Linked DNA regions of Homo sapiens: region 1 is linked to region 2. Evidence: fine-mapped expression QTL. A gene starts in region 2. The other region holds a variant in brackets. All regions are shown on one strand. Distances are from middle to middle.

Evidence for each region. PIP is the estimated chance that this variant, and not a neighbour inherited with it, causes the effect.
Region 1: its variant is fine-mapped to the expression of PLA2G4D in esophagus mucosa (GTEx, PIP above 0.99).

What each region holds. Positions count from the first base shown.
Region 1 is chr15:42,114,890-42,130,843 of GRCh38, reverse strand. No RefSeq gene overlaps it. Among named protein-coding and RNA genes, the nearest start is that of PLA2G4D, 28 kb to the right of the region's middle. The variant C/G (reference allele first, on the strand shown) is at 9,158.
Region 2 is chr15:42,084,468-42,100,421 of GRCh38, reverse strand. PLA2G4D (phospholipase A2 group IVD) reads left to right here and starts at 5,860. Exons shown (of 20, transcript NM_178034.4): 1 at 5,860-6,007; 2 at 12,722-12,794; 3 at 12,986-13,122; 4 at 14,078-14,209; 5 at 14,891-14,931; 6 at 15,284-15,326. The coding sequence starts at 5,963. RefSeq lists enhancers at 3,162-3,662, 6,061-7,035, 8,010-8,984, 15,016-15,954 and a silencer at 15,697-15,954.

The DNA.
Region 1 (15,954 bases), 30 kb before region 2:
TGTCATCCTGAGCTTCTAGTGTTTCCTGCTAGGTGTCCCAGAGGACTTTATCCATTAGCAGATGGAAGTGCCCTACTATAGGCTGGAGGAGCTCAAGGCTGCAGGAATGGGGTAGGTGGGCAAAAGAGCAGCTAGGGAGCAGCCTGGGCGTCCAGGACTGTTCTGGAACCTGCTCACTGGGGGGTCTGAGGCATGGAGGAAGCTACTTCCTTATGGTGCAGGGCTCTCAGCTCTGTCTGTAGTTCCACGGCCCTTCTCCGATGCTCCCCATCCCAAACCTTCTTACTACCAATGGGTCCTAGTTTACCAACCAGAGAGGGGGTCAGCAATCTGAGGCTGCTCTTCCTGCAGAGGATCCCAAGTCACAGTCATCCTAGAGGCTCCTTCCCTGGCGCCCTTTATCACAAGCCTAGTGAGTGGCTTCTGCAGAGCTGGTGAAGCCACTGGGGGATTCCTTCCTGGTGAGTTCAGCACGAGTGGAAATAGAGTTGCAGGGAGCCCTGGGAGAAGGTTGAGCTAAGCTGGAAGGGACGTCAGAGGCTAGCTAGGTCAAGTCTCTCATTTTAGGATGAAGAGTAATGTCCCCTTTCATTTCTGATGTTGCTCGCTTGTGTTTTCTCTCTGCTTGATCAGTCTAGCGAAGAGATTTCTCAATTTTATTAAATATTCAAGAAGAGCTAACTTTTGCTTTTGTTTATTCATTATTTTCCCATTTTCTATTTAAATAAATTTTGTTCTTTTTTACTTCCTTCTAATTACTTTGAGTTTAATTTGCTCTTTGTCTAGCTTCTTAAGACAGAAGCTGACCATTTCAACTCAGTGGTTTCCTTTCTTAAAAAGCAGCTTTATTGATGTATAATTGACGTACAAAGAACTGCACATGTTTAATATGTAAAATTTGATGAGTTTGGACGTAGGCAAACACCTGTGATACTATCACCACAATCAAGTCAACACAGTCAACACCTAAAAAAGTTCCTGGTGTTCTTTTGTTTTTGTTTCTGCTTTGTTTTGTTTTTGTTTCCGCTTTGTTTTATTTTTGTTTCTGCTTTGTTTTGTCTTTGTGGTAAGAACACTTAAGGTGAGATCTGCCCTCTAACAAATTCTGAATTCTACAATACCATGTTGTTAACTGTAATACTATGTTGTACAGCAGATCTCCAGAACTTAATTGTCTAGCAAAAGTGAAACTTTATACCCATTGAACAACAATTCCTCATTTCTCTCACACCTAAACTCTGGCAACTACTATGGTACTCTCTGCTTCTATGAGTCTGACTCTTAAAAAATAAATTCCATGAGTCTGACTCTAAAAAATACTGTCATAAAGACAGGCGTATAGACCAATGGAACAAAATAGAGAGCCCAGAAGTAAACATATGTATATGTGGTCAATTGATCTTTGACGAAGGTACCAAGAATATGCAATGAGACAGAGAGGAAATATAGTCTCTTCAAACAAATGTGCTGGGAAAATTGGATATCCACATGCCAAAAAAAGAGAAAATGAAAATGAAGTTAGAACACTACTTTACGCTGTACACAAAAATTAAATGAATTGAAGACTTAAATGTTAGACATGAAACTGTAAAACTCCTAAAAGAAACTATAGGGGAAATTTTCTTGACATTGGCATTGGTAATAATTTATTGGATATGACTCTAAAAGCACAGGGAACAAACCTGAAAATAGATAAATAGGACTACATCAAACCAAAAAACTTCTGCATACCAAGGAAGCAATTAACAGAATGTAAAGGCAACCTACAGAATGGGAGAAAGCATTTGTAAATCATATATCTGATAAGGGTTAATTTCTAAAATATATAAGGAAATCCTGCAACTCAATAGCAAAAAACAAAAACAACAAAAATAACCTGATTTTAAACTGAGTAAAGGACTTGAACGAAATCTCTGCAAAGAAGACATGTGAAATGGCTAACAGATATATGAAAATATGCTCAACATCATTAATTATCAGCCTGTCCCCTCCCCTCCCCTCTTCTCCCCTCCTATCTCTCCCTCTCTTCCTCTCTTCCTCCCTCCCTCCCTCCCTCTCTCTCTCCCTCCCTCTCTCTCTCCCTCTCTCCCCCCGCCGCCCCTCGACAGGGTCTTGCTCTGTCGTTCAGGCTAGAGTGCAGTGGCATGATCTTGGCTTACTGCAGCCTTGACTTCCTGAGCTAAAGTGATCCACCTCAGCCTCCTGGGTAGCTGGGACTAGAGGTGTGCGCCACCACGCCCAGCTAAATTTTTATATATATATAGAGAGAGAGAGATATAGATATTTGTGTGTGTGTGTGTGGAGATAGGGTTTCACCATGTTGTCCTGGATGGTCTCAGACTCCTGGGCTCAAGCTATCTGATGACCTTGGCCTCCCAAAATGCTAGGATTACAGGCATGAGCCACCACACCCAGCCCAGGTTATTTTCTAACATATGCATTTAGAGCTATACACTTCCTTCAAGCACTGTTTAATCTTACACCAGTCAACATGGCTATTCTTAAAAACTCAAAAAATAACAGATGATGGTGAGGTTGTGGAGAAAAGGGAATGCTTATACACTGTTGGTGGGAGTGCAAATTTATTCAGCCCCGGTGGAAAGCAGTTTGGAGATTTCTCAAAGGAGTAAAAATAGAATTACCATTTAACCCAGCAATCCTATTACTGGATATATACCTGAAGGAAAATAAATTGTTCTGCCAAAAAGACACCTGCACTTTTATGTTTATCACAGCACTATTCACAATAGCAAAGACATGGAATCAACCCAGGTGCCCATCAATGGTGGATTGGGTAAAGAAAAATGTGGCACATATACGCTATGGAATACTACACAGCAATAAAAAAGAATGAAATCATGTCCTTTGCAGCAACTTGGATGCAGCTGGAGGCCATTATCCTTAGCAAATTAACACAAACGGAAAGCCAAACACTGCATGTTCTTACTCATAAGTGGGAGCTAAACATTAGATATGCATGAACACAAAGACAGGAACAATAAACACTAGGAATTCCAAAAGCAGGGAGAAAGGAAGGGGGCAAGGGTTGAACAACTACCTATTCAATACTTGTGAAATGGGAAAAGTTCCCTTATCCCCCTGCAGGGCGTGCGATGGGGGTGTGGCTCGCTGCTCAAATCTCTAGGGGAGCATACAGACAGGTTGTGGGGTTCCGACCACATGGCAGTGTCTAGGGGGTGAATGTTTACAGCTGAAGCCCCAGTGGGCGTGTGTTATGGTGTGCTCTTTCAGTTTTGCCATCTTTAGGTGGCTTGTGTCTTCTTCCATGGCTGAGTTCCTCTCAACATCCAGCTGCTTGGCCCGCTAGTGTCTCAGGGTATTTATAGGCACAGGATGGGAGTGTGGCAGGCCAGGGTGGTCTTGGGAAACACAACATTTGAGCACAAAATGGGGATGGAGCCCTCGCCAGGGACCCCGCCCTTCTCTAACCAGAACTTCCCTGTCCCATCCCATATCATTTGGGCGAAGTACTTGGGTTAGAAGCCCAAACCTCAGCATCATGCAATATACCCATGTAACAAACCTATACGTATACCTCCTGAATCTAAAATAAATAAATGGGCTGGATGCAGTGGTTCATGCCTGTAATCCCAGCACTTAGGGAGGCTGACACACAAGAATTGCTTGAACCCGGGAGGCGCAGGTTAGGAGTTCAAGACCAGCCTGGCCAACATGGTGAAACCCGGTCTTACTAAAAATACAAAAAATTAGCTGGGCATGGTGGCACGTGCTTGTAATCCCAGTTACTCAGGAGGCTGAGGCAGGAGAATAACTTGAACCCAGGAGGCAGAAGTTGCAGTGAGTCAAGATTGCACCACTGCACTCCAGCCTGGGTGACAGAGCGAGACTCCATCTCAAAATAAATAAATAAATAAATATAATAAAATAAGTAAGTAGAGGCCGGGTGTGGTGGCTCGTGCCTGTAATCCCAGAACTTTGGGAGGCTGAGCTGGGCTGATGGCCTGAGCTTAGGAGTTCAAGACCAGGCTGGCCACCATGGCGAAACCCCGTCTCTACTAAAATACAAAAAATCAGCTGGGTGTGGTCGCAGGTGCCTGATGGCCAGCTACTCAGGAGGCTGAGGCACAAGAATTGCTTGAACCTGGGGAGGCAGAGGTTTCAGTGAGCCGAGATTGTGCCACTGCACTCTAGCCTGGGTGACAAAGCAAAACTCTGTCTCAAAAAATAATAATAATAAAAATAAGTATATATTTATTACATTGGGGGAAATTGATGTCATAAAGTCATCAATTTCCCCCAATGTAATTCAATTAAAAATAACTATTTTTTTAAGCTAGGGAAGTTAATTGTAAAGTTTATATGAACAGATAAACTTGCAGGAGCCAGGCACGGTGGCTCACACCTATAATCCTAGTACTTTGGGAGGCTGGGGCAGGAGGATCGCTTGAGGCCAGGAGTTTGAGATCAGCCTGGGCAATATAGTGAGACCCCATCTCTTGAAAAAGCAATAATTATGGTGTGAATGGGGGGCAGGGGATGAGCCTTATCAAACATTAAAACATGATAAAGGCCTTATAATTAAAATTATATGCTGCTGACACATAACCAACAGAACAGAATACACAGTATAAAAATAGATGGCAATACATATGAACATTTAGTGTAAACTATACATGATAAGTCACTGAAGAAGAAAATGACTTTTAAATAAGGACATTGTGATAACCAGATAGTTATTTGTAAAATAAAATAAAATTGGATTCACATGCTCCATACCATGTACTAGAAAAACTCCAAGTGAACAAGCAATTATGGCAAGGTTGCAGGACACAAGTTTAATATCTAAAAGTCTATCACTTTCCTATATACCAGCAATGAATGAGTGGAATTTGAAATTAAAAAACACAATACTATTTAGCATCCCCACAAATGAATACTTAGGTATAAAGCTAAAAAATATGCACAACATCTATATGAGGAAAACTATAAAACCACAATGAAAGAAATTTAAAGAACTAAGTAAATGGAGAGATATTCCATATTCATAGTTAGGAAGATGCAATATTGTCAAGATGTCAGTTCTCCACAACTTGATCTATAGTTTTAATGCACTTCCAATCAAAATCCCAGCAAGCTATTTTGTGGATACTGACAAACTGATTCGAAAGTTTGTATGGGGAGGCAAGAAACCCCGAGTAGCCAAAACTACATTAAAGAAGAACAAAGTTGGTAGACTGACACTATCTAACTTAAAGACTAACTATAAAGCTATGATAATCAAGACAATGTGATATTGGTGACAGAAGTTAAGGGGGAGGAAGGGATGAAGACACAGCACAGAGACAAATAGATCAATGGAACAGAATGACAGCCCAGAAATAGACTTACATAAATATACGATCTTTGACAATGGAGCAAAGGCAATACAATAAAGCCGAGTCTTTTCAACAAATGATGCTGGGGCAGCTGGACATCCACATGCAAAAAAAAAAAAAAAATAATGGCTAGACACAGACCTTATACTCTTCACAAAAATTATCTCAAAATGGATAAGAGACTTAAATGTAAAATGTAAAACTATAGAACTCTTAGAAGATAACGGGAGAAAATCTAGATGACTTAGGGTTTTGCAATGACTTTTTGGATACAATACCAAAGGCAACATCCATGAAAGAAATAATTGATAAGCTGGATTTTATTAAAATAAAACATTTCTTGGCCAGGCGTGGTGGTGCACACCTGTAATTCTAGCACTTTGGGAGGCTGAGGCGGGTGGATCACCTGAGGTCAGGAGTTTGAGACCAGCCTGGCCAACATGGTGAAACCGCATCTCTACTAAAAATACAAAATTAGCTGGGCATGGTGGCGCATGCCTCTGATCCCAGCTACTTGGGAGGCTGAGGCAGGAGAATTGCTTGAACCCGGGAGGCAGAGGTTGCAGTGGGCCGAGATTGTGCCACTGCACTCCAGCCTGGGCAATAGAGTGAGACTTTGTCTCAAAAAACAAAAAACAAAAAAAACATTTCTGCTCCTCAAATGACACTGCCAAGAGAATGAGAAGAGAAGCCACAGACTGGAAGAAAATATTTGCAAAAGACATATCTAATAAAGGACTGTTATCCAAAATACAAAGTACTCTTAACACTTGATAAAAAGAAAACAACCCTATTAAAAAATGGGCCAAAGACCTTAACAGACACCTCACCAAAGAAGAAATACAGATGACAGGTACGCATATGAAAAGATGCTCCGTATCATACATCATCAGGGAAATGCAAATTAAAGGAACAATGAAATAGTACTACACATCTATGAGAATGACTAGATCCAGAACACTAACGACACCAAATGCTGGCGAAGACATGGAGCAACAGGAACTTCCACTCATTAATGGTGGGAATGCAAAATGATTCAGTCACTTTGGATACAAATCTGAAGGTTTCTTAAAAAACGAAACATATTCTCCATTTCATTTTGGAATATTTACCCAAAAGAGTTGAAAACTTATCTCTTTACAAAGACTGCACATGAATGTCTATAGCAGCTTTAGCTATAATTGCTAAACCTTAGAAGACACCAAGCTGTCCTTCAGTGAGTGAATTGATGAGCAAGCTGGGGTACATCCAGACAATGGAATATGATTCAGCACTAAAAAGAAATAAGCATTCAAGCCTTGAAAAGACATGGAGGAAACTTAATGTGTATTACTACGTGAAAGAAGCCAGTCTGAAAAGAGTACAGAGTATGATTTCAATTGTATGACATTCTGAAAAAGGAAAAACTAAACGACAGTAAAAAAAAAAATCAGTGATTGCCAAGCGTTAGGTGGGAGGGAGGGATGAAGAGGCAGAGCACAGAAGCTTTTGAGGGTAGTGAATCTACTCTATATGACACTGTAGTGCTGGTTACATGTGGTTACATGTGTCTGAATCCAGAAAATGCAACATTTCTATGTTTCCAAGCATGAAGCCTGGCTTGTTCCCAACCTTGAGACCTCAGCTTACTAGATGGGTGGAAGCCTTCTGTGACCTGCTCTTAATCTCCTCTCTCCTTGGAGGCAGGGAAGCCAATTACACCTTTGTGACTTTTCCTCACCCTATTCTCTGTACTACATGATGTTCAAGGTGAAAGACTTTTACGACCACTTGTTGCACCTGTGCGGCCACAGCGCCATGCTGCAGACCTTGAGGACTTCCCTGATGCACTGGGTCCTGGGATGAGGGGTGGAGGGAAGTCTCCAGAGACCCTTATCTGACCCAGAACCCCCAGGACCCTGAGGGCTACACTCTGTCCCTGCAAAGGCTGGGGATTTAACCCAACCTGCAAGTGGGCATAGCCACAGCCCTCCCTGGGCTGGAGTTTCCCAGCTCTCCTAGGCTTGGGCCACGTCTGCAGCTTGTCTCCCTGCCCAGGGAGCCACATCCCACCTAAAGCTCTCCTTTACATTTATGGCTTCAGAGAAGCCAACAATAAACTCCTCCCCAGACCTATATAGAATACTGGTTCAACCAAACAAAGCATTCACACTAATTATGTTTATGCACAAGCAGGATGAATTTGAAGTGCAGGCCAGAGGAGCCAGCCTAGGGAGTGGGGGCAGGAAGAGGCAGGGATTGCTTAATCTGAGGGGCGACTTCAGGTACAGAGAGGAACATGAACCATCAGGCATCATAGCATGTCCCAAGGACACTCACTTCCTGTTTCCCATTCAAGCTCCATGATCTAAGAATTTCATGTCAACCTGGAACTGCGGCTGCCCTCACCCAGGTGGTGCACAACACAGATTTGGGACAGATCCTCTCAGGACCCTCCCTCTAAGAAAGCCCAGCATTAGGGAAGGGGCCTGTGTTAGTTCAGGTGCTCTAAAGTGGCCAAGATGGGATTATTTGTGCCAGAGACTTGTTAAAGTAAACACCTGTGAATGAGGAAGGAAAGGGGCAGGAGAGCCTTCAGATTGTAATACCATTTGGACACCTATGAAAGGAGACAGGGAAGGAAGGGGCGATGGAAGGAAGGGCCTCAGACTCAGTTCTAAGAAAATTCCAGCCCGGCTGATGGGAGTCCTGGAGCCATAGTTGCCCATTAGAGGGGTCCCATATCCCACAGGAATGGGCAGACACTAGTGCCCCACCACGTTCTGTCTTTGGCTAGGAGTAACTCAAGAAAGCGTGGCCTTGGTGTGAACGCAGTGATAGCTCCAGAGGGTGGCCAGGGACTGGTGGTCACTATAAGCCTGCAGCAGGTTCTTTTGAAGGAGGTCTGATTTTCATGCTTGCCACAGGGTCTTCGGTGTTTCCCATTTCTTTCTGTCTTCTGCATTTATTTTGGGTTTTCTCTCTGTGTTCCCTATTTTATCACAAACTCTTGTTTTTAATAATATTGTTATATAGCCTCTGTTGAATACTTGTTTTGTGTCAAACATTTTACATATGTGTTTTCCTTTATCCTCACAATTCTGTGAGGGAGGTAATATTATTCATGTTTTATAGATGTAGAGACTGAGGCTCAGAGAATTGTTATTTATCCAAGAACATTAAAGTCAAAAGTGACAAAGCCATACCTTGAACTCAAACTCAGGGCTTTTTTTTTTTTTTTAATTCCAACACCCAAAGAATTAGCCACCATACTACCGTATGCCTTTGAGCACTTGGCTTTTTTTTTTCGCATCTTGTGTTTTAGGCATGAATGTGGAGAAAGTAAGGGGCCTGAGTTCAACAACAACAACAAAAAGTCTTTGCATTTGGGAAACTTCCAATGAAGCCAGATACAGGGCTGACAGGAGTGCCTTCAGCCTCCAGAGTGAGCTGGGCTGAGCCCCAGGGATAATATGTGTGTGTGTGTGTGTGTGTGTGTGTGTGTATCTGTGTGTATCTACCCTGATCTGACTGGCTGCTGTTACACCCAGGCCCTGAAACCCTGAGGGCCCCCTCAGCTCCACCCTGATCTGGGTGAGGACAGGCTTCCAGTGTGGATTGCACAAGGTACTTCTTGCAACCTGTGGACCCCTCCAGGGCCAGGCCCAGAGCCAGCCGGCAGAGCTCAAGCTCAGGACTAGGGCAGGGAGGTCCAGCAGGCTGTTAGTCACCAGTACCAGGGCTGGCCTGTCACTTGGCCTATTCTGCCCAGTCTGCAGTGCAGCTGAGCCCTTTCGGGAGTAGGCACAAAGGGTGAGCAT[C/G]TTTATGCTAATGACAGTGCTGACCACTCGCAGAAGGACTGAACAACCAGATGAGTGGGATGGATCGTCCAGTGGTTGTCAATCAGCCCTGTCCTCAGCCATCTTAATGTTTGTGCTCCCAAATGGAGCAGAGATGGAGGCAGTACAGGGGTCCAATAGCATAGGATCCCCATTCCAAGACTGACCTAGCTACTGACACTGCTGATTGTCGAACCTGCCAGCTGCAAAGACTGACACCGAGTCTGCAATAAGGCACCCAGGAGCTCAACTGACCGCTGATGGCAAGCTGATTATACAGGACCCCTTCTGTCCTGAAAAGGACAATTCATACTTACTGAAATGGACACACATTCTGTATGTGGATTACCTTTCCGGCTTCCTGCACCTCAGCAAGCACGACAATCCAACGACTTACACAATGTCTAATCTACATATGACTGTGCATAACAGCAACTTAGAGTAAGGGAGGCAGTGTGGTGCATATCACATCAACCACCAACTATTGCCCAATAGAGTGGCGAGATGGCCTCCTGAAGATGCATGGAGGAGCTAGTTTGGGGATAGTGTGCTATCTTCAGGATGCAATACACATCTGAAGCCAATGGCCATTGCATGTGCATTTGTCCCCACTAGGTAGAATGGATGGTCCAGGGTCCAAGCGGTAGAAGTAGGAGTGGCTCTGCTCATCACTATTCTAAGTGACCCACCTGGGGAATTTATGCTTCTCTTCACAGAAACTTTAGACTCTGTGGGTCTAGAGCTCCTGGTTCCTGGGGGCAGGAGCGGGAAATGCTTCTATTGGAGGACGCCATAGGAGTCCCAATAATCTTACAGCTATGGCTGCAGCCTGGCCACTTTGGCCTCCTCATGCTGGTAGATCAGCAGGCAAAGGAAGGGGTTACAGCTCCAGCAGGGGTAATTGATCTGATCATCAGGAAGACACAGAGCTGCTGCTATACAGTGGGATGATGGGGGCAGGGAGGAATATGTTTGGCACTCAGGTGATCCTGGGTTTGCTTTTTTCTATGTGAAATTTTGCATGTAAAAATGGGTAAATATAGCAACCATGGTCTGAGTAAAGCATAACTTGAGCTTCAGACTCCTCTGAGATAAAGGTCTGGAACACCCCTCCTGAGAGCCACAGAGAGCAGCAGGAGTGCTCGCTGAGAGGCAAGAGAACCTAGAGTGGGTGGTGGAGGAGGAAGATGATGAGTATCAGTGACAGATTGAGACAAACTGTGGTGGTGTGGGCTGTAGTTCATTCCACTAACTCTTCTCCTGTAAATGTTCCCACAAATTGTGACCAGCCAGAATCCTGGAAAAGCTGTGCCTAGATTGAATGAAGTTAATATGGGAAGCAATTGGATCTCAGTGGTTTGGGAGGTGGACTGTAGTATATGCTGTTGGTGGCCTGCACAGCTTCCTTTGACCAGCCTGGCTGCTGAGAGGGTTGGTTGCTAATGGCCCTCAGCTAACCCCTTCTCCAAAGATCTGTGCTTGGCTGAATGAGAGTCCCACACCTGCTTTATCACTCAGGGTTCTTCAGAGAGACAATATCAATGAGAGAGGGAGAGAATTGGCTCATGCAACTGTGGGCTCTGACAAGTCTGCAATTTGTAGGGCAGGCTGGCAGGCTGGAAACCCAGGCAAGAGTTGCAGTCTTTAAGGCAGAATTCCTCCTTTTCTGAGAAACCTCAGTTTTTGCTCCTAATGCTTTTCAACTGATTAAACGAGGCCGACCCACATTACTGAGGGTAATGCCCTTTACTTAAAGTCAACTTATTGTAAATTAGTCACATCTACAAAATACCTTCATAGCAATATCTATGCTAGTGTTTGACTGAACTGCTGGGCATCATAGCCTAGCCAAGGAAGCACATGCAATGAACCATCGCACCTGAGAGGTTAAGTTCTCACTCATACCCGTAACCCTGAGGCCGTCAGCAGTCAATCCCCGACAGACAGAGGGGCTCAGAAGGCCAGGCCCCTTGCTCCAAAGTGGGACCACCTCTTGCAATTTGTGCTGCAGAGGTCCCCGTGGGACCAGACTGAAGCGAGGCTGCAGCTGAGACCACGTGTTTGTTTAGCTATTTTTCCTCCCTGCTTCCCTCTCTCCCTGTCTCCTGGGAGTATTCTCCCTGTACAACAAGTGTCCCCAGTCCCTGCCTCAGGCTCTGCTTCTAAGGAACCAGACCTAAGACACTGTAATGGGTAATGTTATGTGTCAATTTGGAGGGTGTTTTGGGATGAGATTAACATTTAAATTGGTGAACTCTGAGTAAAGCAGACTGCTCTGCCTAATGTAGGTGCGCCTCATCCAATCAGTTAAAGGCCTGAACTGAGCAAAAAGACTGACCTCCCCGAGCAAGAGCCCGTTCTGCAGCAGACTCTGCCTTTAGACCTCACCTGCACCATTAGCTCTCCTGCGTCTTCAGCCTGCTGGCCCACGCTGCAGATTCTGGATTTGCCAGCCTCCATAATTGTGAGCTGCTTCCTTATGATAAATCTCTTTCTCTCTATGTACACATCCTATTTGTTTCTGTGAAGAACCCTGCTACAGACACCAGCTATTTCAGAATAAGAGTCTCAGGGAGGGGCATAGGCTGCTTGTGCTGCGGCAGGAACTGTCCTTTCAGGGTGCATGAGTTCCTTTAGCTTTATCGTTGCTCAGCCGAATGAGATAGGCAGCTGTTGGAATACACAGCTTCTCCTTAAAGAGTCTTGCTTCTGGGATTTGTCAGTCAGCCCCGCCCCCAATATTTTCCATAACTAAATCCATTCCAGAGAAGTTCCTGCCACAAGTCCATGCACCCCATCCATTATTTTGGCTTTGCAGTTTAAGGTGTGTTCCTCCCCTTGGCATGGGCACCCTGTAGGTGTCTGTGAGCTCAGAAGTTGTAGGCATTCTTGATCCCTTTCCCTCCACACCCCTGTTTGATCTTCATTGCTTTTAGTAGTCCACATATATTTGTGGATTGGGATTCAAATGTTTTTTTAAATTTCATCAAACGTAGAGTTTGTGTTTCTGTTGTTATTTTCTCCTGTTGCCTTTGAATGACTTAAGAGAAGGGAAAATGCTGAGTTCAGGGAGCTTGTAAGGCTTTTGAGTTTTTGCAAATCTGATGTGTTCGAGATAGTATCCCACTGTGGATTTAATTTGCATTTCCTCATATATTAGTGAGGTGCAGCATATTTTTGGTGTGTTTTTGTCTGTGCTGGTTTGCTCATCTGTGATATGCTGGTTTGTATATTCTGCCCATTTTTCTATTCAGTTCTTTGTCTTTTTCTGATTTGTAAACATATAAATATGTTTTTTTATTCTAATACATTTTTGGTTAAATATATTGCAAATATCTTCCCTCAGTCTGTGAATTATTTTTTCCACACTGGAAGGTGTCTTTTATTTTAAAGTTTTATATTTTAATATAATTGAATAAACAATAGTTATCCTTTGTGATTTATGGGTTTTGTTTCTTTTTTAAAAAATCCTTCCTTATCTTGATGTTCTAAATATCATATATTTTATTCTAAGAGTTTTAATCTTTACTTTTTAAATATAGGGCCTGGCCGGGCACGGTGGCTCACGCCTGCAATCCCAGCACTTTGGGAGACTGAGGCGGGAGGATTGCTTGAGCTCAGGAGTTCAAGCCTAGCCTGGGAAATGTGGCAAAACTTCGTATCTACAAAACATATAAAAATTAGCCAGGTGTGGTGGCTTGCACCTGTAGTCCCAGCTACTCAGGAGGCTGAAGTGGAAGGATCACTTGAGCCTGGGAGGTGGAGGTTGCAGTGAGCTAAGATTGCACCACTGTACTCCAGCCTTATGACAGAGCCAGACCCAGTCTCAAAAAATAAAATATAGGGCCTGAATTGATTTTATGTTTTCCCTAGCACCATTCAATAGCTAGTATGTTTTCTGCCCTGATCGACACTGCCACTTTTATCATATAACAAGTTTCCAGCTGTGTGTAGGTATTGTTTCTGGGCTCTATATTCTGTTATATTTGTGTGTCTGTTCTTGCTCCAAGACTCAGCTGCTGTAATTAATTTACAGTAAGGCAAGCCTCCTTCCTGTTCTTTTAGTATTGTCTTGGCTATTACTATTTTTTTGATCTTCCATATAAATTTTTGATTCAGCTCATCAAGTTTCATGAAAAACCCTTTTGGGATTCTATTTAAAGTTGCATTAAATATAGAGATTGTTTTTGGAGAGAATTGATATCTTTAGATAAAGATTCTATCTAAGGAACATGGCATATTTTTTCCATTTGTTGAGGTCTTGATGTTTTTCAAATGCACATTTAAAATGGTGTCTAGTCTTTACCTGGTAACACTTGCCTATAAAGTAATCTGGGTCTTGAGTTTATTTTTTATTGTTGTTAGATTTTGAATTACTAATTCAGTTTTTCTTTTTTTCTTTTTCTTTTTTTTTTTTTTTGAGATGGAGTCTTGCTCTATCACCCAGGCTGGAGTGCAGTGGCACAATCTCAGCTCACTGCAACCTCCACCTCCTGGGTTCAAGCAATTCTCCTGTCTCAGCCTCCTATGTAGATGGGACTACAAGCGTGTGCCACCATGCGTGGCTGTTTTTTTTGTGTGTGTATTTTTAGTAGATACAGGGTTTCACGATGTTAGTCAGGCTGGTCTCGAACTCCTGACCTCAGGCAATCCACCCACCTCGGCCTCCCAAAGTGCTGGGATTACAGGCATGAGCCATCACACCCAGCCAGTAATTCAGTTTTTCAAAAGGCTTTTGGATTACTAGAATGAACAATGTGGTGCTAGATTAGAGTCAGAGATACCATGTTTAGTTTAGATATTGATGGATAGATATAAAAATAATTATATATATGTGTGTATACACAGATCAGTATATGTCATATACATACATATATATAAACATATATAATATATTAAATATGTGTTACACACACACACACACAATAGCCTAGCTCTGTTTGCTGAGAGAACCTAGAAGTAATGACACCCCAGTAGCAATGAGCACACACAGTGCCCAGATCTTGGCTTCTAATAGCATTCTTCAACAAGAAAGAACCAGGGTTTCTTGGAGAAATGGTTCATTCTAGAGTGGAAACAGTCAGTATACAAGATGATCCTAAAGCATCTTGTAGTGCCAGAAAGTAAGGAAGTGATCAAAAAGCAAGGAGGTGCTCAAAAAGCAAAACAATACATACGTGTCAAAAGAGACACAGGAGGCAACAACAAATTCTCCCCAATGGCCAATGGTGGAACAATTTGAGCAACAAAAGAAAACAAAGTTGACTGGGCACTATGGCTCATGCCTGTAATCCCAGCACTTTGGGAGGTCGAGGCGGGTGGATCACTTGAGGTCAGGAGTTCAAGACCAGCCTGGCCAACATGGTAAAACCCCATCTCTACTAAAAATACAAAAAAAAAATTAGCTGGGTGTGGTGGCACCCACCTGTAATCCCAGCTATTTGGGAGGCTGAGGCGGGAGAATCACTTGAACCTGGGAGGCGGAGGTTGCAGTGAGCCGAGATCATGCCACTGCACTCCAGCCTGGGTGACAGAGCAAGACCCCTGTCTCAAAAAAAAAATTAATAATAGTTTAAAATTTTTTTTAATTAAATAATTAAATAAAATAAAAAATTTTTAAAAATTAAAAGAAATAAAGTAGCATTGGATTACAACCTAAAGCATAAAATATCCATGAGTCCATACTAATATAAATAAACTAATATAAATAAATACTAATAAAATAAATCAATGGGAAAGAAGAGACAAATCTTTCATGCAGAATAATTCCAAATAATTTATGTAGATACTCCTCAATAAAGGAGGTAGAATATGACTCCCCACCCCTTAAGTATGAGCTCCACTTAGTGACTTGCTTCCAAAGAGTACAGAATGGAAAGGAGGAAGTAACTTTACAGTAGAGAAAATTGGCAAATATTACCTCATCCAGATGATCAGGTCAACAGCAACATTGATAAGGCACATTGATAGCATGTACCCTTGATGTGATGTGAGGAAAATGGCCCTTTACCTCTGTGGTCTTCCTCCCTCAAAACCATGATTCTAGTCTAATAATGAGGAAAACATCAGACACATCTCAATCAAAGGACATTTTACAAAATACCTGACCAGTACTTCTCAAGACTGTCAAAGTCATCAAAAACAAGGGAAGTCTGAGAAACCATCACAGCCAAGAGGAGCCTAAGACGTGACTACTAAATGTCATATCCTAGATGGAATCTTGGAAAAGAAAAGGACATTAGGTAAAAACTAAGGAAATCTGAATAAGGGATGGATTTAGTTAATAATAACATATCAATATTGGTTAATTGTAGCAAATATACTCATGTTTGATGTTAATAATAGGAAAACTGGCCACAGGGTCTGTGGGAACACTGTACTATCTTCACAGTTTTTCTGTTCTGAAAAAAAAGGCTAATTTTTTTAAAAAAGTAAGTTTATTCTGTTTCCATTTGGTAATGTGTATCATAATTCTCAAATCATGGATTTTGTAAGGCATATTTTTGTGATTGATTTCTACCTTATTTGCACCTTGGTAAAAGAAATGTTATCTGTATGGTACCTTTTTCAGATTTTTGAGACTTATCATAAAACCCTGTTCATGACCAATGTTTGTAAAAAATGTTCCATTGTGTTTGAGAAGAAGGTGTATTCCCTAAATGTTGTGGCTGTATATGTCCTGTATATGTATTTGTAGGGGTCTGTATATGTCCTGTAGATTAAGCTTGTTCGCTGTGTTGTTCAAATCTTCTATATTCTCAATAATATTTTATATGTTT
Region 2 (15,954 bases):
TGTCAGTCAGCTGCCTCCTCTTCTCTGTGACATTGTCATCGATTGGTGTTCTAAGCAAGGATAAAGGGAAGGGAGTGACCAAACCCTTCTTTCCTGGGGTTAAAGTAGGTGGGGAGGGGCTGAGACCCAAGTGAAAAGCCCAGGACTGGATCTACTCCTTCAGGCAAAGCTCGATCCAAGGGCTCTCTCTGCTCCCTTTTGCCTGCACTTCCTCTGGAAGGAGACTGTACTGTGGCCTCTGGGCTCCACTCCCAGGGTGACCTGGGGGCAGTTCATCAACCAACTCCTGCCTCCGTGTTCTCATTTGTAGAATGAGGATAATAAAAGTTCCTCACCTGACAGGGCTTGGGGGATCTCCTTAGCCAGATCCTAAAAACAGCCATAGCCACACCAATGTCGGCAGACAGGCAGAAACAGGAAGACAGGCAGCTTTGCCAATTGTAGATAAAACAACGGTGTTCTCTATATAAAGTGCTTTGAATAGTGTGACACAAGGGCGTGTATTATGGAGCCTGAAGGTTATACAAGTTGACACAAAGTTAGGTACAAAAGTTAATATTCTTTGTAAATGATAAAAAGAAATCAGGCAAAAATTAAAATTTTAAAAGGTTGATAAATTCCAAAATATTACAAAATTTAAAAAAATACATTGATATGGGCTCAGCACAGTGGCTCACAAATGTAATCCCAACAATTTGGGAGGCTGAGGCGGGTGGATCACTTGAGACCAGGAGTTCTTGACCAGCCTTGCCAACATGGTGAAACACCATCTCTACTAAAAATACAAAAATTAGTCAGGCATGGTGGTGCGCACCTGTAATACTAGCTACTGGGGAGGCTGAGACATGAGAATTGCTCGAACCGAGGAGGTGGAAGTTGCAGTGAGCTGAGACCATGCCATTGCACTCCAGCCTGGACCACAGAGCAAGACTCCATATCAAAAACAAAAAACAAACAAAAAAAACACACCATGATATTTGTGTGAATCAACTGCCAGACACACCTCCATGCTTTTCCCTCCACTGCTTGCCTGAATACACCTTGATTGCCTTTTTGTTCAACACCCATTTTGTGAGTTGTTGTTTTTTTTCATTTCTTCTTTGCTGTATAACAATACCAGTTTTGTAATATCACTTTCTTTGGTGCAAATAGGTAGCAATCTTTCCTCCAGTCTGGTTGATTGGAATTTTTAGAAAATTATTGATAGTTAATAGTAGTTCATTATTGATTGTTTCTTTCAGCTTCATAATTCTTTACTGGTAATGTTACATAAAACTTCAGGATCATTACAAATTTAGGAAAACCTCTGCTTTACTTACTATGGCTATGTAACAAATCACCCAAAATGTAATGGCATAACACAGCAACCACTCTATTAGGCTCACAGATATTTTGTGTGTCAGAAATTCAGAAAGGGCCCTGGCTAGGGATGACCCAACCACTGGGGCTAAAATTATTGGAAGGCTCATTCGTCCGTGGGTCTGGAGCCTGGGCTGGGCCAGTTGGAGATTAGGACTGCTGACTCCAGCACCCACTGGTGGCCTGTCCTTATGGCTGGGCTTCCCCACAGTATGGCCGCCTCAGGGGAGTTGGGTGTTTCGCCTGGCGGCTCAGGGCTCTAAGGGGGAGTGTTCTAGCCATTAAAAAAGAGAGCTGCATCACCTTATGATCTAACCTTGGGAGTCAAGCAGTCATTTTTCTCACATCCTGTAAGTTACCAATCACAAGCCCATCAGATTTAAGAGAAGGGGAGTTGGCCTCTATTTTTTGATGGGGAGTGGCAAGGTGCTGGAAGAGCATGGACAGGAGATATCGGTGCAACCATTATTGGAAAACAGAATCTGCCGCAGCCTCCATCAAGCTTCTTTGGTGTATAAGCTGTTGTAGGTGTTGTGCTAGCTGCTGTAGCACAGGAATCACGATACATATTCTATTAATATTTCTTAAAATTACCCTCAAATAAAGGAAAACATGCAATCAAGACATGATGGGAAACACCCTTTTCAGGAGAGAACTTCTGTTTTGATCAGGTGTCAAGGAAAACCAAGTCTTCCACTTACAATGTTGTGTGTTGGATTAGAGGAATTTTTCAGATTGGTTTCTGGCTCTGGATATTTCAGATCTCATTTCTCTTCCTCTATCCAATTCTTCTGGCACCAAAGGACACACCCACATCACAGTGAACTTCACTATATGTGAAGCTGACTGTACATGAAGCTGACTTCACTATATGTGAAGCTGACTGCAAACCCCATAAATACATCTCACTAAACTGAAATAAAATATATCTCTAACTCAACCTCTCCTTAACCAGATCCTAAAAATATCTATAGCCACACCAATGCTAACAGAGGGGTAGGAATGGGAAGACAGCAGTCTTTACCAATTGTGGATAAAATCGTTTACTACTGTGAATTTTACTAAAATATATGATCACACGAACCTACTGCTAGGGCTCCCCTGGAGCCTTGGAAGGATGTGTGTGTGCAAGGAGAAGACTCAGCTTAAGTATCATTAGCTGCACAATAAACCCGCCTCTGCCTGGCACATAGGAAGTATTAGTTATATAGGTGTTTATTATTACTGGCTCCATTTTCCTGACAAATTTTCCTCTCATGGTGGCAAGATGGATACATTTAGCAGCCCCAGCTTCATATGCTCCCAAGTTCTGCCCAGCAGGAAAGACAAAGTGTCTTTCTTAGAACTTCATGCACCAGCATTTATTGTGATTGCACCAGCCAGAGTCCTGAGTCCAATGAACCAAATGCCTTGGTTAGAAAGCTTCCAGGAACTGACTGGCCAGCTTTGGACCACATGCTGTGTTCTTGCAGCTGGAGGTGGAGTCAACAGCACCCAAACCAAGGGGGAAGAGAGTCGGGGAGGGCTGGTTTCCAGAGAAAATCTGGGGAAATTAAAGGAGCCTTGAGTGCCAAATGAAAAAATAGATGTTCATTTTCTGTGAGTATAGAGTAAACGTTGAGAAGAGACAGTGGTGGCAAGGATGCCCAGCAAGGGAGAGGGATGAGAGAGTGGAAAACATGGCGCCCAAGACTTCCTCCAGCATGGCTGCTTAGGTCAGGTCTGCTCTGATGGGCTCTCTAGGCATGGCCCTCCTTTAAGGACCCTCCACCCGTGGCCTGGGTGAGCAGCATGTGGCCTCAGCCCAGCCCCGCTGTGCCTGCCAGCCCTGTTCCAGGCTGACTGCCTCCAGGTCACCTCTACCTGTCTTCTGTCTTCTTGTCCTGACCTTTGTCTTGGTCTGATCCCTATTCCCAGCTGCCTATTCATAGCCCTTGGAGGGTTGGAGTGGGGAGATCTTTAGGACCTCAGTCCGAGGCCAGCCACTGTGCTTCCCTGCTCCGTGTCCTTCCCCCTTCCCACCTTGGGTCTCCACCATGTGTCAAAACCCTAGGTCTTGGCACATAATTCATGGAAACTGTGATGGGAGCATCCTAAATATTTCCTCTCGTCCATGCAGAACCCTGCGGCTCTCTTCAAGTGGGGGGTATCCACGTGTGACCCATCGAGCAATGGTTTTCCATCTTTTTCAAACTCTTTTTGAGAATCTGATTAAAGCTATAGACCTGAGCTCTCTGGTAAGGTAGGCTCTAGCCACATGCAACTGCTGGACTCTGGAAATGCGGCTGGGCTGAACTAAGATGTGCTGCAAGCATAAAACACACAGTGGATTTTGAAGTCTTAGTATGAAAAAAAGTAAAATATCTCCTTAATAATTTTATATGTTGATTACATGTTGAATTGACAATACCTTAGATTATTGGGCTAAATATATATTAATTTCACCTGTATCATTTTACCTCTTTTTTTGTGGCCACTAGAAAGTTTAATACAACATCTGCAGAGCTCCCAGAACATTCCTACTGGACAGTGCTGTTCTAGACCCCTTCTCTAGAAACATTCACACATGCATACATAGTCACATACTGGACTGTGCTGTTCTAGACCCCTTCTCTGGAAACATTCACACATGCATACATAGTCACCTACTGGACTGTGCTGTTCTAGACCCCTTCTCTGGAAACATTCACACATGCATACATAGTCACATAATTTTGTATACAATTTCAGGGACGGTTAAAAGTATCCTAATTCCCATCCATGGACCCTAGACCCAAATTAAGAATCTCTGAATTAGGAATTTCGTAGTTTTCACCAGGCCCAGCATCTACCACACCATCATTGCACAGGTGGGGAAACTGAGCACCACGTCCTCCTCCAGGCACAGCCAGCTGTCTTCTGGGGGTGAGGGGGTGTCTGGCCCTCCCGTACTGGAGTGGGGCGCTGGGGCTGGGGTCACCTCAAGGAACGTGTTGCTGCGGCTCTGCCTCCCTAGGTTCCCCCAGCGGATCCCGGCGGGCGTATGGGGATGACAGGGGCAGGGAGGTTAATCAGGACTCCTAAGGTCCCAGGATTCCTCTGGAACGGGCCTAAACAATGGAGGCCACCAAGGACCAGGGAAGTTCTGGTGGGTGGGCTTCAGGACAGACAGTACAATCCCAGCCTTTCCAGTCACCAGCTGGGTGATTCTGTATTGCTTTGTCTGTGACCCACTTGAAATGACTTGTTCTTTGTAGTTTTCTACATATTACATTTACTTCTTTCCCCCCCACCCCTTTTTTTAAAGAGACAGTGTATCACTCTGTCACCCAGGCTGAAGTGCAAAGGTGCAATTATAGCTCACTGCAGCCTTGAACTCCTGGGCTCAAACAATTCTCCCACCTCAGCCTCCTGAGTAGCTGGGACCATAGACACGTGCCACCATGCCCCATTAATTTAGAAAATTTTTTTGGTAGAGATGGGGTCTCAACATGTTGCCCAGGCTGGTCTCCATTTCCTGGCCTCAAGCAACTCTCCCTCCTTGACCTCCCAAAGTGCCAGGATTACAGGCGTTAGCTGCCATGCTCAACCACTACATTCATTTTTTTATTAAATTTTATATCATGCAAATGACAGATATTTCCACCCAAATAATGTTTACTTGTTCATAGACCATTAGATTCCTGTTTTGGCCAACTCTGAAATAATACATTTTAGATCCACTTGTAGTATTTTAAGATTAACTCAGTTTCATTTGCTTTGAAAAACAACATCATCGCTGTTCAACTGTTTACAGAATTGATGGTAAAATGACTGAATTCATGTCATTTTAGGAGAGCGTTCAGTGCTAATGTGTACACTGAATGCTTTAAGCGGTGAGGTGGCTTCACAAAGTTTACTTCTACAATTTTCATAACCTAAGAATCTCCTGATTGGTCTCTTTTACTTTTATTACAAAGTCTAATTGAAATCCCCTAAATTCTTAGGGCCCGCCGCATGGAGGTGAGGGGCTTGTGGTGGGGAATGTCCAGACCCCTGTGCTGCTCCCTGGAGCTTGCTCAGGTCAGGTGAGGAGGATACACTAGCCCGGGCCTGTCACCACGACTGCTCTTGTTTTCATCCCCTGAACTCCCTGCTGCACAGAGCTGCCCAGGAGGGCTGGCTCCTTGCCTAGTCTCAGGTGCTCAGCCCTCCTCCTCTAGAGGCTGGCCCTGGCTCCAGTGGAGCTGGGGGTTTCCTCAGCTCTACCCCCACCCCATCCTCTGCCCTCAGCCTCAGGGGAACCAGCTTCCTGCCACCACTCCTGGGACTCGTCTGCCTCCCCCTGGCTGCATCTTCTGTCCTGAAACTCCAGGTCTGGAAGAGGTGCTCCGCCTGCAGGTCCTGGAGCCCTGCCAGAGGTTTCTGGAGATGCTGGTTGACCCAGCCTCTTGGGGAAGAGGGGCAGGTGCAGGGCTGAAGGAGCGACCTGGGGGTGGAGCCCCAACCTGTTTATAGGATCGTGGCTCATTGAAGGCTGGCAGATTCATGCTGGTCCTATCCCACTGGGACCGTCGCTGCCACTCAGCCAGAGAGCCAGCATCTTGGCAAGGGCTGGGCCTGGAGTGAAGCTGGAAGGGCTAGCATGGAGAGCCTGTCACCTGGGGGACCACCTGGCCACCCTTACCAGGTAACAGTGTCTGCAGAGCATGTGGGCACCAGTCAGGGCAGGCCTGGAGCCAGGGTGCATTCTGGGAAGTGTGATAGCTGGAATCAGGGTGATTTCAGACTGGGCCAGAGGGCGAGGGAGTCTGAGATTTGGGATGCAGAGTGGGTGGGGTGGGTGAGCAGCATCCGTAGATGCGGGGGCTGGGAAACGTGAGTCTGGTCAGCAGAGCTTCCTCTCCCCACCACCAGCGACCACAGCAGTGTCCTTAGGGACCTCTCCCCCACCATCATCGGAGAACATAGTGGCTGGGTGTGTCACAAAAGGAGACCCACCAGGCCCACAGCCCCACCACCACAGGCCGGCAGACTTCCCAGAACTGGCTGGAGCCCTGGGATCACCCTGTGTGTCTCCAGAGCTCTGGGGGCCCAAATCCCCATCCACTGCCAAGTATTTAGTAGGCCCAAGAGCTGTGGGGCTGCATCCAGGCCAAGGAGGCCTGCAAACTTCTCGCCACCCCCCCACCCTCTGTCATGTGTTTCTCCAAAGCCCAGAGTTTTCATCCTCTGCCAGGGACCAAGGCCAGCAGAGCTGGCTCCTGAGGTCTCCCCCCGGTGCCCCAGGTGGTGGCCAGGAATGAGGCTAAGTGTGTCAAGGTCACTGTCCTGAGGTCCTTTGCCTCATATGCAGACCTCGCTGGGCTTCTAGAGCTGTGGCCCTGAGACCCAGGCCCAAGCTGGATCCAGACAAGCAGCTCCAGACTGGTGCTCCTGGAAGAGGCTCAGCCTGGGGCAGGGCAGACACTAAGGAGCCCTGGGGGAAGATGAGAGGGACCCCTCAGTGAAGGACCACACTGTTGCCCCAGCCTGAGGTCAGGTGGATCCACCCACGAGTCAGACATCAGCGGACATTTGGATGCGGGGGAGTCCACGGATGCAGGCCAGTGGAGGGGCTGGCGGCCCTGGCTCCACCACCCGTCCCATCAGGAGCCCTGAGCCCAGAACGGCCCATTGTGGAGGCTTCTGGAATATTTCCCCCTTTAAACTCATCTCCCTGGCGAAGGCTGTGCCCCTTTCCCCTTTTCCCTCAGCCTGCTCTAGGTCTAGCTCCTGGGTAAAACAAAAGCCTAAGTGTCAGCAATTTGGGAGCCTCAGTCGGCCCCACACCTGGAAAGCACCTCGCCTCCAGCTGGCATTCACAGGACTGAGTCCCCAGGACCAGGTCCTCAAGCTCCAGCCTTCAAGTCGGTTCCTGTGGTTGGCAAGCTTCAGCAGCGGTTTAGCCTAGCCTCATTTCTGCTGGAACAGGGGCCTGGAACCTGCCCCAGAGCGGGACCTGGGCCAGCAGGCTAGGCTGGCCATCCGGGACCTGTTCTGGAACGTGCCTGCCGTGTGGTCCAGGAGACTCAGCCCAGCCTGAGGGAGGTGCAGGGCCTGGGGCTGTGCCCAGGGGTTCCACTCCTCTTCTCTCTGACCTCCTGCATTGCCCCACCACAGGGCGCCAGTGCCAGCAGACGACAGGGTGGGTCTGCTCATTTCTCTCTTCCTGCCGAACACCCAGGATCACGGGCAAGGATACTCTGGACCCCAGCTGGGGAGACCCAACCCCCTTAAGCTCTCTTGGGCCACATCTCCCAAGATGGGCACGGGGCAGCACAGAGCCTCTCACAAAACTTCCTGGCAAACGTGTGCCCTGGGCCTCTCCACCGGAAGAAGGATGGCCCAGAGCCTCTGGGGTCCCTGCGCAAGGTTCAGAGTGGCTGAGACCCTCAGCAGGGAGGCATTCGGGGGATCCTACAGGTGACTGGGCTGACGAATTTCCTCCAGAAGCCTCCGGGTTAGTCATCAATTAAGGAGGTATTTCAGATGGGAGGAGCTTTCAGAAGGGAATGTGACGCCCCTATGCCCTCAGGGGAAAAGATTCATATCAGTTAAAGTGTCGGTTATCTCAGTAATCATATTAGTCAAATCTGTGACAAATCTATGAATATCTGTTAGTCAAATTAGACAAATCTATGAAAATCTAGTGTCTAGATATCCTAGATATCCGTGGGGCAATGAGGGAAGAGTTGCATGCTTTTCCAAAGAAGCAAAAGTCCTGGGAAGGTAGAATAGACGGGGGTTGTGAGCTCTGGCCTGGAAGTTTGAATTCTAACTCTGTCCCTGCTAACTCTGTGACCTTGGGCAAGTTAGCCTCTCTGAGCCTCAATTCCCTCATGTAGAAAATGGGAGGAAATGGGAGTACTGTCTTTTGAAGCTGTGGGAGGATAAATAAAGTTACAGTAGTGTAGGGACCAGCCCCACAGGGTCGGTGGGTCTCTCCCCGTGTGCGGTGACGAGAGAGTTTAGAAATAAAGACACAAGACAAAGAGATAAAAGAAAAGGCAGCTGGGCCCGGGGGACCACTGCCACCAATGCGCGGAGACCGGTAGTGGCCCTGAATGTCTGGCTGTGCTGTTGTTTATTGGATACAAAGCAAAAGGGGCAGGGTAGAGAGTGTGAGTCATCTTCAATGATAGGTAAGGTCACGTGGGTCACGTGTCCACTGGACAGGGGGCCCTTCCCTGCCTGGTAGCCGAGGCAGAGAGAGAGAGGAGACAAAGAGAAAGACAGCTTACGCCATTATTTCTGCATATCAGAGACTATTAGTACTTTCACTAATTGACTACTGCTATCTAGAAGGCAGAGCCAGGTGTACAGGATGGAACATGAAGGCAGACTAGGAGCGTGACTACTGAAGCACAGCATCACAGGGAGATGGTTAGGCCTCCAGGTAACTGCGGGCGAGCCTAACGTCAGGCCCTCCACGAGAGGTGGAGGAGTAGAGTCTTCTCTAACTCCCCCGGGGAAAGGGAGACTCCCTTTCCCGGTCTGCTAAGTAGCAGATGTTTTTCCTTGACACTTTTCGCTACCGCTAGACCATGGTCCGCCTGGCAACAGGCATCTTCCCAGACGCTGGCGTCACCGCTAGACCAAGGAGCCCTTCTGGTGGCCCTGTCTGGGCATAACAGAAGGCTCGCACTCTTGTCTTCTGGTCACTTCTCACTGTGTCCCCTCAGCTCCTATCTCTGTATGGCCTGGTTTTTCCTAGGTTATGATTATAGAGCGAGGATTATTATAATATTGGACTGAAGAGTAATTGCTACAAACTAATGATTAATGATATTCATATATAATCGTATCTAAGATCTATATCTGGTATAACTATTCTTGTTTTATATTTTATTATACTGGAACAGCTTGTATCCTCGGTCTCTTGCCTCGGCGCCTGGGTGGCTTGCCACCCACACGGTAGGTAATATGGTTAGTACAGTATTGTCACCCTACAGAAAGACACGAGAGAAAATGATCTCTATGTTGTGTTTACTCTGGAATGAGAAATGACTGTGGCTCGGAATGTGTCGAATGACAGGCCGCCAGGGCAATTGTGAGGGAAGGGGAAAGGGAAGCTTTTACTGGAAAAAAGGGGGAGGCTCACAGAAACTGCTTGGAAACAGAGTTCATTGGTTCCAGAGCTCAAAGCCAGAGTTGTCAGTTCATTGGTGGAGATGCTGTTACTGGGCACGTGTTTTCTGAGAGCATCTTATCTGAATTATTGCAGTCCTAATGGATGTCTAGTGATGAACCTTGTCAACTCATCTCCCTGGCGAAGGCTGTACCCCTTCCCCCTTTTCCCTCAGCCTCCTCTAGGTCTAGCTCCCAGGTAAAACAAAAGCCTAAGTGTCAGCGATTTGGGAGCCTGAGTCTGCCCCACAACTGGAAACTGCCTCACCTCCAGCCGGCATTCACAGGACTGAGTCCCCAGGACCAGGGGCTGTGCCCAGGTGTTCCACTCCTCTTCTCTCTGACCTCCTGCATTACCCCACCACAGGGCACCGGTGCTAGCAGGGAACAGGGCGGGTCTGCTCATTTCCCTCTTCCTGTCAAAGAGGGACTTTGGCATGAAGGATGTGAAGCTGTTTTCTGTGGGGTTTGTAGGAAGTCCTTGGAAACAACTCTCATCTCAGACATGTAAATACGAGCTCTGCTCTTTCATGCGTTCCCAGCCCTAATTTGTCGGGGTCTGACAAAAGTGATTTCATCCTGGTATCTGCAACATTCACAGTGCCTGAAAACATGGCAAATACTTAATAAACAGTAGTAGCAATAGCAGTTACCTAAAAACTGCTTACTTTATTCCTAAGCAGTCTGCAGGCATTAACATTTTAAGCCTCAGAATACTATGTGAGGTCAAAACTATTATTTCCACTACACATGAGGAAACAGAGGCACAGAGAAGTTTAGTGACTTGTCCAAGGTCACACAGCAAGTAAGTGGCAGGGCCAGGGTTTAAATCCAGACAACCTGGCTCCAGAGTCTGCCTTTAAGCCCCCGTAAAGACCAGTCATTGTAATCACTGTCCCAATAATACCATGTTCTGGGCACTCCATGTTAGCGATGATCTTAGAGGTGAAGAGAATCGGGATTTTTCTCTAGGGAAAATAACCTGCCGGGGAATGGTGGGCTTTCTGAGGTTGAGAAGCTCTCAGTGATGGGAGGGAGAAATGAACCACAGTGCTTAAACCCGGGATGGTGACTGGCTAGACAGTGAGTAACTGGGGCCACTTCTCAGTAGCCCAAGTGACTTTAGAGCAGCCCACAAGCTGTGGACCTGTGGAGTATCAGCCTGGCCGGGGGAGCAGGGGAGCGAGGCTGGGCTGCCTCTGCCCTTCACCTGTCTTGTCTTGGAGCGGGACATTCAAACTCAATACCCTGCAGGGCCCCAGCATCCCAGCCATCACCTCCCTGTGGCCGGCAGTGGTGGAATCTGAGTGAGGGGAGGAAATGGAGCTAGATGTCCCAAAGTTCATGAAATCTCTGCTGCTGACAACCTCTATAAGGCTTAAGGTTTATAGAGTTGACATGTTGCTGGTGCCACTGGAGTTAATCCCCAAGAAGAGAGAAACAAATCTACCTTGCTCGGGGAGGTCACATGTGCTCTGCTGGGAAGCTGCCTGGAATGATAGGACGTTGGCATGGAACCACAGAGAGGAAAGATGCAGGGGCAGGGCCACCAGGCATATGGCTTTGCTGTGGCCCATGGTCCTTTACAGTTTTTGGTGGGGAGTGGAGATTCAGGTCCCCGTGGGTGCTGAGCCAGCCCCTAGCAAGCAGCATCTGTGCAGAGCGGGTACGAGTCCTTGTGGGCACCGAGAACTTCCAACCACATGCATGGAAGTGGGTCTGGTCACGGGAGAGCGCAAAGCAGGAAACACCTCTGGTTTTATCACAACAGTCTCCCAGCTATGCGATATCAAATGTTCACTGTGCAAACACTGCACTGGCTTTTGGCTCCCTCAGGGTCGGGGAGGAGCGGGTGAAGGGACATAGGGTCTGAGAAGATCGTACTTACTTAATGGGGAGTCTAACCTGGTGGCAGAGCCGCTGAATGGCAGAAGCCCCAGCACGGGTTTTTTTCTGGAATGAAGGTGGTCTCTGGGTTGTTCAGCAGGGCCGCCACACTGCATGGCTCCTGGGGTTAGCATTTCATAGGCCTTCATGTGCTTGGTGCCTCCTGGGGGTCCTGCCATGCTGTGGCCCTGCAGGATCCCCTCCTGGCTGGGGCTCCCACTGCCCCACTCCCCGGCACAGGCAGTGTTCCTTCCTGACAGCCCCTGTTCTAACAGACCCTCTGGACATGGGCTCTTTCTGCTGGGGCCACGTGCCTCATAGGTGGTCCTCCTGGGAAGGCTCCCTTCCAAGAGGATGCAAGGCCAACAGCCTTCCTTGGGGTCAGCCCACAGGAAAAAATGCCATTTGCCCTGCCAAACCGATTTGAGTAACCTCACATCAAAGGGGCTTATAAGAAACCTGTGCCAGATGCCCAGAAAAAGCCGTGCTGCAGGGCTCAGGAAGAACAGAAACTCCAGGGCCCTCCTGATCGTGGCAGTGCCGGGGACCTCAGCAGTAGGGTGTGGGGACACCCCCAGTGCTCTGACCCCAGCAGGCCTCAGCCACGCCCCTCTGGCCATCTGCTTTCCCTCCTGCCACCTACTCTCGGCTCATCTTCTCCTCCAGCTTCTGCCCACTCAGCTGCTTCTCCCTCACACCTGGGCTGTCTGTGGCTGATGTGGCCTCATCAGCATCTTAATACACAGTGGCCTTTCACCCACAGCACCCACTGCTCCCTGTGATGGCTGGATGCTCTTGGAGTTTCCTCATTCATACCCCTTACAGTGCAGATAGCTGAGATCCAGGGTAGCGCCTGTGGACTGGGCTGCTGAGGCTCACCCTCCCTTAAGTCATATGCCTGCTTCCCGTCCGGAAGGGCTGAGGGGTGGGCAGTGCTGGCAGCAGGGTCACCAAAGGTAACCCTTGTTTTGCCAAAGGGCTGCCCTCCCTGGGAGCTCTGGGAATGGCTGACATCTAACTGACCTCTGTGGTTGCCACTCCTTGGCCCTCACTTCCTTGCTCTGTCCACTACCCATGTTGCTCTGTTCCCGAAGGGGAAGGGGTTCCACAAATTCCACATCTGGGTGTGCTGCTATTCCCTGACTGCTGCAGCCCAGAACCATGACCCCCAAAACAGAAGTGGACAAAGGCTCTTTGGTCCCCAGAGGGTGTCCCCGGAACGCCTGGCAGGGGTGTCAGCACCACCAAGTACCAGGAGAGTGGTGAGGGGTGTCGGCAGCCCGGGCTGCAGCTCCAGGCATAAGGGAGGGAATGCAGGAAGGACTCTGGAGTTTGATTTTCTCTTCAGGGGGAGGCCTCTACCTGCTGGCAGCTCACAGTGAGGGTCCTGGAGGCGCGGAACCTGCGCTGGGCTGACCTGTGTGAGTAACCGCCCTGTGCGCTCTGTCGGGAGCAGGGAGGACCAGATCCCATAGGAAGGGCCAAGACGAGTGCCCTGGGGCTGGGCTGGGTCACCTGCGGTGACCGCCAGGGTCTTGGTAGGAAACTGGCATGGCTCATGGAGAGGGGTGTGGGGAGTACTCCCTCACGAAGACTTCCTTAACCTTGGCAGTGAGTGAGGCCGACCCTTACGTGATCCTACAGCTGTCGACCGCACCTGGAATGAAGTTTAAGACCAAGACGCTCACCGACACCAGTCATCCTGTGTGGAATGAGGCCTTCCGTTTCCTTATCCAAAGTCAGGTCAAGGTGAAGGCCCGGGACTCCTGGCCACTCCCTTGTGAACGGGCTGGACCCCCATGCAAGGGTTCCTGGGGTAGAGCATGCTTCCTCTGGGGCTGTCAGAGAAACTCTCAGCAGTAGGGGGTCTCTGTGCCCTGGCCTGTCTGTGCTGTGTGCAAGGGAATGTATGAAAGAATGAACATGGTCCTTTCACCAACTGGCTGTGGGACTGACTCCCACAAGCTGGGTTCCTCTCGAAGCCCAGCTATGAAACAGAGACAGTAAGAGCCCCCTCCTGATCAGGTCACTGTGGGGTGAGATGAGATAATGCGTGGAAGACCGTGAAAGATCACCAGCACATACCTTAGGGTGCACCTCAGGGAGCCAGAAAAGCCAGGGAGAGAGAGACACACAGACAGGGAGAGAGGAAGAGGGAATTATTTGACAGACTTTTATGTGTTTTGTTTTGTTTTTGAGACAGAGTCTTGCTCTTATTGCCCAGGTTGGAGTTGAATGGCGCGAACTGGGCTCACTGCAACCTCCGCCTCCCAGGTTCAAGCGATTCGCCTGCCTCAGCCTCCCGAGTAGCTGGGATTACAGGCACCCACCACCATGTCCAGATAATTTGTTGTATTTTTAGTAGAGATGGGGTTTCACCATGTTGGCCAGGCTGGTCTCGAACTCTCGACATCAGGTGACCCACCCACCTCAGCCTCCCAAAGTGCTGGATAACAGGCATGAGCCACCATGCCCAGCTCAGAATTTTATGTTTGATAAAAACAAAAATTAGAAGGAGGAAATTTGAAATTTAATAAGATTTCCTTATATTTAAGTTTTACAGTTTTTTTTTTTATTTTGAAGCGCAGACGTGTGGTGGCATAATGATCTTCTCTGACTCTAGACATCAAGTAAGGGCTCAACAGAGGTGAGCTACTCTCACTATGAGCAGGTAAAATGCTAAGTCGCTGTTCCTGGTTCCTAGAATGTTCTGGAGCTTAGCATCTATGATGAGGACTCAGTCACGGAGGATGACATCTGCTTCAAGGTTCTCTATGACATCTCAGAAGTCCTCCCTGGCAAGCTGCTCCGGAAAACCTTCTCCCAGAGTCCCCAGGTGGGTGGGTGGGTGGGGAAGTCCCCGTGGGCCCCACTTCTTCCAACTCCAAGCTGAGGAAGTAGCTATTTCTCCCACCTGTTGGGAGGCTGCTGGGGTGAACTCATTCACAGAAAAATCTAAACCCCTTTTTAGATTTGCATTTTAATAAGCAAGGAAAAGGCTTCACTTTACAGTTACAGGCTGAATCACCCAGTGGAGGAATTTTAGCCACCTGTGGCAGGAAGGCCACCCCTCAAAACACAGCTCAGCATCCATCACTCCTGCTGGTGGTGCCAAGGCCTGCTTTGTGAAGGCCTCACGTCCCTTCCTGCTGCAGCCTGGGGGTGGGGACGGCAGAGTTCGGGGGTCTGGGCCCTCCTCAAGAAAAAGATATGGGTCCTGCACATCATGCCTCCTTTGGCTGTGCTCCTTGTCTTCCCCTTCAGTCTTGCCCAGAGTTGTGGGACCTCCAAGGGAGGGAGACCTGTTCTCTGCAGACTTACTAGCTGTGGGCAATGTGGGCAGGTAGCCCATCTGGCCCCATACCTCAGTTTCCTCATCCATAAATTGGAAATAATTGTACTAACGTGCCTCCCTTGGAGACCGCTTGAGAGGATGAGATGACACCTGTAAAAGAACTGTGTCAACTCTGAAGACACAGGTATGTGCTGATGACTTGCTCATGCTCTCTGATTTCAGGGAGAGGAGGAGCTGGATGTGGAGTTCCTGATGGAAGAAACGTGAGTAATGTCACACAGCCCAGGGAGTGTCTCAGGACTCAGGCTCTGAGGAAATGGCCCTGACCCAGATCTCCCTGTGGTCAGTCCAGCCTGACTGTCCCTCATCTCCTACCCCTGCCAGAGAGGTCGGGAGTGGGGCGGGGCTTCTCTTAGGGAAACACAGAGAGGAAGGCCGATGTTTTCTCTCTCTGCTCTCTCCCCTCCCCTCTCCTCCTGCAAAGCATCTCCCCTTGTCCCTGAACCGAATCCAGGACTTACAGAGCCCTCAGCATCACCCAGGGAGACCCCACATGGGCGGGAGCGGGAGGTCAATGCAGGAAGCGTTTGCCTTTGCATGGTTTGATTTTTCCAGGTCAGATCGCCCAGAAAACCTCATCACCAACAAAGTCATTGTGGTAAGCACCTTCCCCAGGCTTAGGGGAGGGGCCCCAGAGCAGACGCTTGGGGAGGGAGGGCAGCTGCCTGGGGTGTGGACCAGCAGGGACAAGGAAGGGGCAGGGCTTCGTGGTAAAACCACCCCTAGCCTTCCAGCCAGGTGGTCACCTGTGGCTGTGGGTCTTGGAGGGGCCTGGAGCTAAGGGGCGCATAGAGAGAGGGGAGGCAGGGCTCTGCTGAGAGGAGGTTCTGGCCCACGGCTGTTCGGGGTGCTTCCGGAAGGTGTTTAGTCACCTGCGGTGAACTCATAGTTCTAGGGATTGACTGAGTGCTTCCCTGGGAAGCGGTGAAGAAATCAGGTAGGCCAGGCCCACCTTCCGGTTGTTCACGTTGAGGTCACCGAGGCTCAGAGGGAGTTCCCAGGGCGGTGTACTGCCAACCTAGGAGGATCAGAGGCTCAGGCAGCTAGCTCCTCCTTGGGACTGGGGAGAGTCCTGGTCAGCGCTCCTGACCACGGGCTCACGAAGCTGCAGTGGACAGAAATGGCCGCAAGGTGGCGAGCGGGCGACGCGCTCGATTATCACAGTGACCCAGACCAGCAGCACAGACCTGGGAGCAGGCGGGTCCAGGGTCACGGGCGAAGGCACC